2 separate regions of the Homo sapiens genome follow, and region 2 is linked to region 1. The links come from fine-mapping of genetic effects on gene expression. Tissue or cell type: whole blood. Region 1 holds a variant in brackets; the other region holds the start of a gene. All regions are shown on one strand. Distances are between the middles of the regions.

Evidence for each region. PIP is the estimated chance that this variant, and not a neighbour inherited with it, causes the effect.
Region 2: TRAP1 starts here. The variant in region 1 is fine-mapped to the expression of TRAP1 in whole blood (INTERVAL, PIP 0.94).

What each region holds. Positions count from the first base shown.
Region 1 is chr16:3,658,112-3,663,543 of GRCh38, reverse strand. TRAP1 (TNF receptor associated protein 1) reads left to right here. Exons shown (of 18, transcript NM_016292.3): 14 at 1-120; 15 at 577-662; 16 at 1,412-1,557; 17 at 4,679-4,751; 18 at 5,314-5,432. The coding sequence ends at 5,415. It also overlaps a transcript of DNASE1 not described here. Among named protein-coding and RNA genes, the nearest start is that of DNASE1, 6.1 kb to the right of the region's middle. The variant CA/A (reference allele first, on the strand shown) is at 2,589.
Region 2 is chr16:3,714,309-3,720,159 of GRCh38, reverse strand. It overlaps TRAP1 (TNF receptor associated protein 1), which reads left to right and starts at 2,636. Exons shown (of 18, transcript NM_016292.3): 1 at 2,636-2,739. The coding sequence starts at 2,652. RefSeq lists silencers at 2,286-2,895, 2,916-3,035.

The DNA.
Region 1 (5,432 bases):
AGTTTGATGAGCTCACCCTGCTGCACCTTCGTGAGTTTGACAAGAAGAAGCTGATCTCTGTGGAGACGGACATAGTCGTGGATCACTACAAGGAGGAGAAGTTTGAGGACAGGTCCCCAGGTCGGCATCCCCTGCTCTCTAGGCGTGGGGCTGGTTTCCACTCCCCGCACGCCTCTCCTGCCCCGCAGCGAGGGCTTCCTTTGGGTTTTCGTCAGTTGACCTGGGCTCAGCCACCCCCGAGAAGAGCCTTGTGGGAGCACCCTGGTGACTGGAGGAAGGTGCCTCCTGGTTTAGATATCAGGGGTCTGTCCAGTGCTCCTGCCACGGTGGCTTCTGGAGCTGGCCCAGCTTCTTGAGAGGCTGTGTATTTTTTTAAAGCCCTAACCAAGTTGTATGGGCCTCAGGCAACCTGAAGCATCCTTTGAGGTTTTACTTTTAGATGAAAAGCATCTTGCTAGCTTGTGTCTCCATCCTGGTGGGAGAGGAGGTGGGAGCTGGAAGCATGCTGCGTGGCCCCCATGGAAGCCGGGGAGTTGGGATGCAGGCCTGAGCTCCCTGTCGCCTGCTCTTCCGCAGCCGCCGAGTGCCTATCAGAGAAGGAGACGGAGGAGCTCATGGCCTGGATGAGAAATGTGCTGGGGTCGCGTGTCACCAACGTGAAGGTGAGGCTTTCCCGGGGATGGACCACCACTTGGCCGCAGTGTCCCTAACAGGCTGGCCAGCTGGTGGCTCCCAGTACCTGGCCCGTTGGGTGTCCTTCCAGCAGCAGCAGAAGCCCTTGGTGTCAGGTGGAGACCCTGTGGGTCCCTGCTCGGCACGTGTTGCTCGGGAGTGCCGCTGAGGCAGGAAGGCCGTGTCTTTCTCCCAGCCCTGCTCCAGAGCAGGTGTGAACTGAGAACTGAAAAACCAGCATCCTGAGTGGGAGCTGCAATGGCTGAGGACGTGGGGGTTCCAAACAAGGGACATGCTACCCCAGCCCTCAGGAGCTCACATGCTCACTTGGGTGCTTAGTCGGGGGTTTTGGGTGGGCTTCAGAGAGCTAAGACTCCCCCCACCAACCTGTCTAGCTCAGAGTGAGAAATGAGCGTCCCATGCATGGTCACTTGGAGGAAGGGGCCTCATGCAGGGTGGGCTGGCATGGAGCAGAGGACGATGGATTCGGGCAGCTCCTGGAGGCAGCAGCGGGGCACCAGGGTGGTGGAGCCCCTCGGGCACAGTATCTTTGCGTGGGGCATCAGCTCAGGGCCCACAAGTTAGTGGGTAATGGGGAGGGAGCAGCGCTGGTCCAGGGGAGTCCTTGAGACCCCGCCTGCTACCTCGTGGTCTGGGTGACCTTCACCCCTGGTAAGATCCTGCCAGCCCTCTCACATTGGGAACCTCTATCACCCTCAACCCCGGGCTTTGCTCACAGGTGACCCTCCGACTGGACACCCACCCTGCCATGGTCACCGTGCTGGAGATGGGGGCTGCCCGCCACTTCCTGCGCATGCAGCAGCTGGCCAAGACCCAGGAGGAGCGCGCACAGCTCCTGCAGCCCACGCTGGAGATCAACCCCAGGTGAGGCCACGCTCCTGGCTCTTCCAGCCTGTGGGATTCCCCAGAATCCTGTGTGTGGTGTTCTTTTGTTGTGGAATGTGACACAGAAGAAAAGTGCGTGAGGCCTGTGGACATGTGGGTAACTATAAGGAGCTGTATGCAGTTTAGGCTGCACCCATGTGAAATGGAACCTGGCCAGCCCCTTACCATCCCCAGGTGTCACCTGGGAGGTTAGCCACATCCCAGCCTGTGACCATGTCCTCGTTTTGCTTTATGGCTTTGCCACCTGTGCGTGTCCTGGACATGCTCAGTTTTGCCTGTTTTGAGCTTTGTACGTGGATCTTGGTGTTTGCTGAAGTCTCACGTTGCTCACTTGGCATGAGGGTTGCCCATGCAGAGGGGCTGCCACAAGTTCATTTTCATAGCCGAATAATGTCCGCTGCAGAAACCCACCTCGGCACAGCAGACTGCTCCGTTCTGCTCTGCTGGGCCTCCGGTGGTTCTTGGTCAGAAGTTGTGGAGAGCCAGGCTGCTCTGAGTATTCTTGTCCACGTGTCTGGGGCTTGTGTGGGTTTCTCTGTGGCCCCGGTGGTGGGAGCTGCTTCCAGGGTGCACCGAGAACCCCCCAGCCCTGACAGTGGCTGAGCCGTAAGATTTCCCTCGTTTCTTCCTGTTGTTCTTTATATGCCCTTTATCTGTTGTAAATGTCTTTTCACCTGCCTTTAGGTATCTTTTGAGTTTCTTTCTTTTTACAGTATCACTTCTTTGCACCCATGAATGTGATCTATTTAGGTCTTTAACATCCTTTGGTACCTTACATTCTCTGTAGGGTTCTGGTACCATTTTTAAAGAATTATTCTTTGATGTGTCTTATGGGGTATTTTAAAATTTCATTTTCTAACTTGTATATGAACTAACTTGTATATGAAGTTTCTTTTTTGGGGGAAATTTTGAATGTAGCAATTTTTTAAAAAATGAAGTTACATAAACATGTTACCAAAAATAGAAAACAGCAAAAAGGAAATCAAAATCCATAGACTTACCACCCCCCC[CA/A]CAATGTAGCCTAAGTAGTATTTTAATTTTTGAGACAGGGTCTCACTCTGTCCCCCAGGTTGGAGTGCAGTGGGGCAATCTCAGCTCACTGCAACTTCTACCTCCTGGCCTCAAACAATCCACCTGCCTTAGCCTCCCGAAGTGCTGGGATTACAAGTGTGGGCTACCACCCCCAGCCAGTTTTTGTTTTGTTCTTTAGTACATGTCTAGTTTTTTTCTTTTGTCATTTTACAACCATAACTTTTAAAATTATACTGGAGGCGAGGGAGATGCATCTTCCTAGCCATGGCACTCCTGGGGAAAGGCTGACTTGGCTTATGGCTGTCAGTGCACAGCAGCGCCAGTATGCAGAATGCCTGTGCCTCTGCTGGAGCAGCTCAGTGAGGCGGACACCAGGTCACTTTAACTAGTTTTGGTGGCAAACTAGTTTTGTGAGATAGCTGCAGAAGTGCTCGTTTCTGTCTGTTGCCACTTCACTTTTGGAGACAGGGTCTTGCTCTGTCACCTAGGCTGGAGTGTACCAGTGGCGCCATCAGAGCTCACTGCAGCCTTGGCCTCCCAAAGTGGTGGGATTACAGGCGAGAGCCACTGTGCCCAGCCAGCTTCACTTTCATTTGTTTTAAAATTTGGTGTTCTGTCCACATAGTTCAGAATTCAAAACTGCTTACAGGGGAAAATTTCCTCCTACCTGTGTCCCCAGTGCAGCCAGCATTAGGGCTTTTGTATTTCTGCAGAGATTATGTGCATTTGTGGGCAGCTGCGCCCGTGGGCTTCCAAGGGGGAACTTGCTGTGCAGTGGGTCCTTGCCTTGCTTTTCTCCCTTAGGGTAACTAGGTGACCTCCACATTAGCATATTAAGAATGTCCTTTTTTTCCAGCTACGTAGACTAGAAATGTGAGGATGTGCATTTGAAGTGTTTCCTCTGTTAGGTTGGGTGCGGTGCCTCACGCCTGTAATCCCAACATTTTGGGAGGCCTAGGCGGGTGGATCACTTGAGGTCAGGAGTTCGAGACCTCATCTCTACTAAAAATACAAAAACTAGCTGGGGGTGGTGGTGGGTGCCTGTAATCCCAGTTACTTGGGAGGCTGAGGCAAGAGAACCTCTTGAAACCAGGAGGCTGCGGTGAGCCAAGATCATGCCATTTCACTCTAGCTTGGGTGAAGGAGTGAGAGTCTATCTATCTATCTATCTATCTATCTATCTAAAAAAAAAAGTGTTTAAAGGGATGCAGTTAGGAAATGGAATGGCTGAGTCTCAGCATATCATCCACATGTGGTTTTCCCGACTCCAGTTGTCCTCTGGAGAGGTTGTACAAATTTACAGTTCCCCAGAGCCCTCGGTTTTATCAGACTTCTAAGTGAAAAATTATAATATTCATGTTAAGGTTAAATACTACATGATGCTTTTTCCTATGCAGAAAAAAATATTGTTCTGACGTCAAATATGTCAATCATTCTTTACTTTTTGGTTTGTGGTTTTGCTTGGAAAGGCTTTCCCCTTCTGAGATGATGAAACATTTCTTCCCTAGAATTGTGCTTGTCATCTTTGATCCCTCTGGAATTTACTCTGGTCTAAATGGTTTTCTGCATGGCTCCCAGTCATCCCAGTGCTGCTGGATGGAGTGATCTGTCTCCTCCCTCTTCTGTGAAATACTGTCCTCATCAGACACTCAGTGTCCACCCTCGTTACATGGAGTTGTTTGCCTTCCCCCTTTCCAGACCTAAACTGTTTTATTTACTAGAGCCCTATAATATGTTTCAACATGTGGGTCTTACTCCCTTCTCTTTTATTATTTATCTAGGAACCAAGGCATGTCTTCACGTACTAAGCTCCTTTTGTCCCTTTAGTGTATATTAATCTTGGAGTTTGGCTACCTTACAGCATTTTCTAATACTGACACTCCTGATTCTCTTGGGTTTTCTGGGTATATAATGATATTATCTATAAATGATCATTAACATACCTTATTTAAAAAACTACAGACAGTCTTACTGTGCTTCTTTAAATATCCTGATAATCCCAAAACATGAAGGGAGGGTCACAGCACGTGGTACTGAGCTGCTTTTTCTGGTGGGTTCTGTGTTGCAGGCACGCGCTCATCAAGAAGCTGAATCAGCTGCGCGCAAGCGAGCCTGGCCTGGCTCAGCTGCTGGTGGATCAGGTGAGTGCAGCAGCTTAGGATGACTGCAGGGACCCAGGCTACCAGCCCTGCCAGCCTGCCTTCAGGGTGGAACAGCGGTTTCCTCTAAAATCCTGTCTTTTTGTTTGTTTGTTTGTTTTTTGAGATGGAGTGTTGCTCTGTTGCCAGGCTGGAGTGCAGTGGCGCGATCTTGGCTCACTACAACCTCTGCCTCCCGGGTTCAAGCAATTCCCCTGCCTCAGCCTCCCGAGTAGCTGGGACTACAGGCATGCGCCTGGCTAATTTTGTATTTTAGTAGAGATGGGGTTTTCACCATCTTGGCCAGGATGGTCTCAATCTCCTGACCTCGTGAGCCACCGTGCCCAGCCAAATTCTGTTTTAAAAACGGAAAAATGGCCAGGCGTGGTGGCTCACGCCTGTAATCCCAGCACTTTGGGAGGCGGGGGGATCACCTGAGGTTGCAGTGAGCCGAGATCGTGCCTCTGCACTCCAGCCTCGGCAACAGTGAGACTCTGTCTCAAAAAAAAAAAAATGAAAAGGTGCCCCATGCCCCTCATAATGGGTTTCTCCTCTTGCCTTTCAGATATACGAGAACGCCATGATTGCTGCTGGACTTGTTGACGACCCTAGGGCCATGGTGGGCCGCTTGAATGAGCTGCTTGTCAAGGCCCTGGAGCGACACTGACAGCCAGGGGGCCAGAA
Region 2 (5,851 bases), 56 kb before region 1:
TTTGTATTTTTAGTGGAGACAGGGTTTCTCCATGTTGGTCAGGCTGGTCTTGAACTCCCAACATCAGGTGATCCGCCTGCCTCGGCCTCCCAAAGTACTGGGATTACAGGCGTGAGCCACCGTGCCCAGCCGGCAAAAACACATTATAAGTCCCCCAACCCATGGAATGGATCATTCCTCTCCACCAAGGGGATTTCAAAGAAACCTAAAAAACTAGTTCAGGCCATAATTGGAAGGATGGGGTGGGTCCTGCCTCATTACACCCTCCACCCCTTGGAAATGAGGCACAACTGACCAGCGTTAACATTACAAAGGACTTTTTTTTTTTTTTGAGACGGAATCTTGTTCTGTTGCCCAGGCTGGAGTGGGAGTGCAGTGGTGCGATCTTGGCTCACTGCAATCTCTGCCTCCTGGGTTCAAGCGATTCCCCTGCTTCAGCCTCCCGAGTAGCCTCAGCTGTACACAGGTGCACACCACCACACCCAGGTAATTTTTTTTGTTTTTGAGACAGACTTTCACTCTTGTTGCCCAGGCTGGAGTGCAATGGTGCGGTATCAGCTCACTGCAACCTTCACCTCCTGGGTTCCAGCGATTCTCCTGCCTTAACCTCCTGCGTAGCTGGGATTACAGGCATGCGCCACCACGCCTGACTGATTTTTTGTATTTTTAGTAGAGACGGAGTTTCTCCCTGTCAGTCACGCTGGTCTCGAACTCCCGACCTCAGGTGATCTGCCCGCCTCAGCCTCCCAAAGTGCTAGGATTACAGGCGTGAGCCACTGCTCTTGGCCTAATTTTTGTATTTTTAGTAGAGATGGGGTTTTGCCATGCCGACCAGGCTGGTCTCAACCTCCTGACCTCAAGTGATAAGACCACCTTGGCCTCCTAAAGTGCTGGAATTACATGCGTAAGCCACCATGCCAGGCCACCTTTGCAGGTCTTTTCCTGATCCTGAGGGTCTAGGAATTTTTAACGGTCTGAATAAACAATATTTGCGAAAACATTTGCCATCTATTACCTGTAAGGGTGGTCATCTATGAGACTTCCTCTACATAATAAGAACCTTGGTCTTCACAACCTGTTTTTTGTTTGTTTGTTTGTTTGTTTGTTTTGAGACAGGGTGTGGCTCTCTTGCCCAAGCTGGAGTTCAATGGCACGAACTTGGCTCACTGCAACCTCTCCCTCCTGGGCTTAAGCAATCCACCCACCTCAGCCTCCCTTGTAGCTGGGATTACAGGCCTCCGCCACCACATCCGGTACAGGTATGTTTGGTACAGACAGGGTCTCACCATGTTGCCCACGCTGCTCTCCAACTCCTGACCTCAAGCAATTCGCCCACCTCGGCATCCCAAAGTGTTGGGATTACAGGTGTGAGTCACCGTGCTCGTGCCCACAACCCCTTATCTTCACCCAGACACTCTTTTTATTGATTCCAGGTCTGTATAACTCAACTCTTTTTTTTCTTTTTTTTGTTTTCTTTTTTTTTTTTTTTTGAGACGGAGTCACAGCTCTGTCGCCCAGGCTGCAGTGCAAGTGGCACGATCTCGGCTCACTGCAACCGCAGCCTCCCGGGTTCACGCTATTCTTCCGCCTCAGCCTCCCCAGGAGCTGGGACTACAGGCACGTGCCACCTTGCCCAGCTAATTTTTTGTATCTTAGTAGAGATGATGGGTTTTCACCATGTTGGCCAGGCTGGTCTCGGACTCCTGACCGCAGGCAGTCCGCCCACCTCAGCCTCCCAAAGTGCTAGGATTACAGGCGTGAGCCACCGCGCCCAACCAGAACTCAACTCTTTTAACCAATTGCCAATCAGAAAGTATCTGAATCCACCTATGACCTCTAAGTATTTCACCCTTTGAGTTGTCCTGCCTTTCCACACGGAACCAACCTATGTCTTACATGCATTGACTGATGTCTTATGTCTCTCTAAAATGTATAAAACCAAGCAAGCTGTAACCCAAGCACCTTGGGCCAAGTTCTCAGGACCTTTTGAGACTGTGCCTCCCTCCATGCACACTCATATTTGGCTCAGAATAACCTTCTAAATACTTTAGAGTTTGACTCTTCTCGACAAGGACAAGAGAAGTGGAATAAACGAATAACCGCAGTTTTCCTGGTGGTATTGGTCACTGGGTTCAGGTTTTGGAGTAGTAGCCAGTCAAGCCTGGAATCCCCTTCCTCATTCGCTTTAGCTTTTTGTCCAGTCTTGGTTTGCAAGAGACTTGCAGCGGCCTAGACGGATGGCCGGGATTCACAAAGGTCGCAGACACGGGAACTGCTTCTTCCCCAGCGTCGCCTCCACACCCTCGCGTGGATACTGACATCCGCCCCATTCCAGGAATGCGCACAGCTAGGCGCAGCCGGCCAGCGTGGGCCGGGGGCGGCGGGGCCACCTCCCCCACCTCCGCGCGCAAGGCCCGTCGCCCTTGACAACGCGATCCAAGGTCACGGAGGTCCCACCCCCAGGCCCGACCGTCCACGAGACGGGTAGTACCCCGCCACGCGCCCGAGCAGGCAGCTGCCCGGACAGCCCGGCGCCCGCCGTGACGTCACCGCCCCGCGCCCGAGGAAGCCCCGCCCCGCGCAGCCCCGTCCCGCCCCTTCCCATCGTGTACGGTCCCGCGTGGCTGCGCGCGGCGCTCTGGGAGTACGACATGGCGCGCGAGCTGCGGGCGCTGCTGCTGTGGGGCCGCCGCCTGCGGCCTTTGCTGCGGGCGCCGGCGCTGGCGGCCGTGCCGGGAGGTGAGGGCGTCCTGGCTGGACGGGCAGCGGGCGGGCCGGGCCACGGAGACGGCAGGGACGTCCCTGTGCTCCGGGGAGCGAGGCGCCGGCACCTGCTTCACAGGCGTGGGAGGTCCGGCGAGGCCAAGCGCGGCAGACGCGTTTACTTTCGCTCCGCTCCTCGCCAGCTCCAGCTTGGCTGCCTTTTCCTCGGCTGGACTCCCCTCGCCACCCGCCCATGGGAGCCCTGAAGGAGGCTGGGTCTTGGGGGGTCGCGGGGTCGGGCGGAGCGGCTGCGGGGTCGTCCCTCCTGGAGCTTCGGTCCAGTCAGGTAGCGCACGTGCAGGTGGAGCCGCTGCGGAGCGCGGAGTCTTTGCGGGTGCATGTTGCGGGGAATGGACTCACTCGGGGTGATCGTGCTAGTTCCATGGATCGTGCTTTACCCCTCCCCGCCTCCCAGTAGCGCACTGAGGGTTCATTTGTTAATTCGTTCATTGGACGCACATGTGAGCGCCCGCTCAGTGCCCGGCGCCGTGCAGGTTCTGGGGACGCCACAGTGAACAAAACCTATAGCAGTCATCCGGGTCCCCAGAGCAGGTGGACTCGATGTCGTTGACGCAGCTGTGTCCTCGGGGCCTGGAATTGATGGATGCGCCAATAAATGTTTGTAAAACAGAGAGAACGACCCTAACCTCTGCTTTCCCAGTCCCCACTCGGAGGTAACAACAGTGAAAGTTTCGGCATTGCTTCGGGGCTGTACACAGTGTTATACGTGTAAATATAAATGTCTGCGTATAAGTATTTTTTATTCTAAAAAGCCTAAACCATGTATGCATTGTGCTACGTTGTACTTCAGAAAATTTTAACGCTCCCAGCATTCTTTCCACATCTTTTCATGTCAGTGTATACAGGTCCATGTGCCTTCCAGTGACCACACAGTATTCTGTATGATGGACGTGTCATTTGTTTAAACATTGTCCTATTAGTGGACGCAATAAAGGTTATTTCAGGTTTTACTTTTTATTACAATGCTGCATAGAATGGGTGAGTACTTAAATATTTGTTCACGTGCGGTATTTCTTTAGCCTTACATAATTAGAATTTTAGAATTGATATTTCAGAGCCTATGCATTTTTGAAATGTTAGCAGATACTGCCAAATTGTCCAAAAAGGCCTTATCAATTTATATCCCCTTTAGCAGGCATCAAGACTGCCTATTCCAAAGGTATTTTCTTCAACGCTGAATCTTATGTCTTTTCAAAACCAGTGGTCTATAAAAGATACCTTGTGGCCGGGCGCGGTGGCTCACGCCTGTAATCCTAGCACTTTGGGAGCCTGAGGTGGGCAGATCAGGAGTTCAAGACCAGCCTGGCCAACATGGTGAAACCCTGTCTCTACTAAAAATACAAAAATTAGCTGGGTGTGGTGGCGCGCGCCTGTAATCCCAGCTTCTTGGGAGGCTGAGGCAGGAGAATCGCTTGAACCCAGGAGGCAGAGATTGCAGTGAGCTGAGATTGCACCACTGCACTCCAGCCTGGGCGACAGAGTGAGACTTCATCTCAACAACAAAAATAATAATAATTTTCCCTCAGAAAGTGATGCTGTTGCTCTCTTCTAGCACCAGTGTCTGATCAATTATTTATTTATTTTTTTGTCTTTATGAGGTGGGGTTTCACTATGTTGGCCAGGCTGGTCTCCAGTGCCTGACCTCAAGTGATCTGCCTGCCTTGCCCTCCAAAATGCTGGGATTGCAGGCGTGTGTCACCGTGCCTGGCCAACTGTTCTGTTAATTTGGTTCTCGTTTCTTTTGTAGCTGACTCGGGTTTTTTCCCCCTTGGAGGTTAAGATTTTTTCTCTTTGTCGTTTGTGGTCTCGCGTCCACAGGTGTTTGTGATTCATGCTTTGTATCATGCACTGTCCCTTCCATTTGGAAAATATGTCAGTTTTCAGCCCAGGGACATTTTAATTCTGTTTCTTTATCTCTTTTTCTTTTTCTTTTTTTTTGAGATGGAGTCTTGCTCTGTCACCCAGGCTGGAGTGCAGTGGCGCGATCTTGGCTCACTGCAAGCTCCGCCTCCCGGGTTCAGGCCATTCTCCTGCCTCAGCCTCCCGAGTAGCTGGGACTTTAGGCGCCCACCACCATGCCTGGCTAATTTTTTGTATTTTTAGTAGAGACGGGGTTTCACCCTGTTAGCCAGGATGGTCTCGATCTCCTGACCTCGTGATCCGCCCACTTCGGCCTCCCAAAGTGCTGGGATTACAAGCGTGAGCCGCTGTGCCCAGCCCTTTATCTCTTTTTCTTAAAAATTGTCTCTCTCCTCTCGTCCTCCATCTTCTGGTGCGGTGGTTCAAGCATTCCTCTGCCTGAGTCTAAGAAATGGAACATGTTCTTGGCAGCCTTCTGCGTGGCAGGTGCCCTTGTCATTGTCACCTGTGTGGATGAATGGGAAGGTAAATTGTTTGGATTGATTGAACGATGAGAGAATTTAGCTAAGAAAATACATGTCTTGTGCAACAGGGGAGAAAGAATAGTTTAGGCAGATCCACCTATGTAGAAAATCCAGACCTCTTGAAATTTTTTTCTTTTCTTGGGAAAGTATTTCCAGGTTGTAGCATGTGCCTGGCTTCAGGTGTGCGTGTCTTATGTCTGTGGAATCCTCTCGCCCATGCTACGCTGCCTCAGTCACCCATGAGCTCAGCCCTCTTACCCTTTCAGACCTCACTGACCCCTGACACTGCCAGCCCTGTCACTTGCCCTCAGAATATCTTATTTGATTTTTTTTGAGCCGGAGTCTTGCTCTGTTGCCCAGGCTGGAGTGCAGTGGTGCAACCTCAGCTCACCACACCCTCCGCCTCCTGGGTTCGAGTGATTCTCCTGACTTCGCCTCCCACGTAGCTGGGACTACAGGCGCATGCCACCACACCCAGCTAGGTTTTGTATTTTTAATAGAGATGGGGTTTCACTATGCTGGCCAGGGTGGTCTCGAACTCCTGACCTCATGATCCACTAGCCTTGGCCTCCCAAAATGCTGGGATTACAGGCGTGAGCCACTGCGCCTGGCCTACCCTCAGAATATTTCTGTGAGGGGTGGGCTAGGATATCCGCTTGTGGACTTTATATTTGTCATTTTTG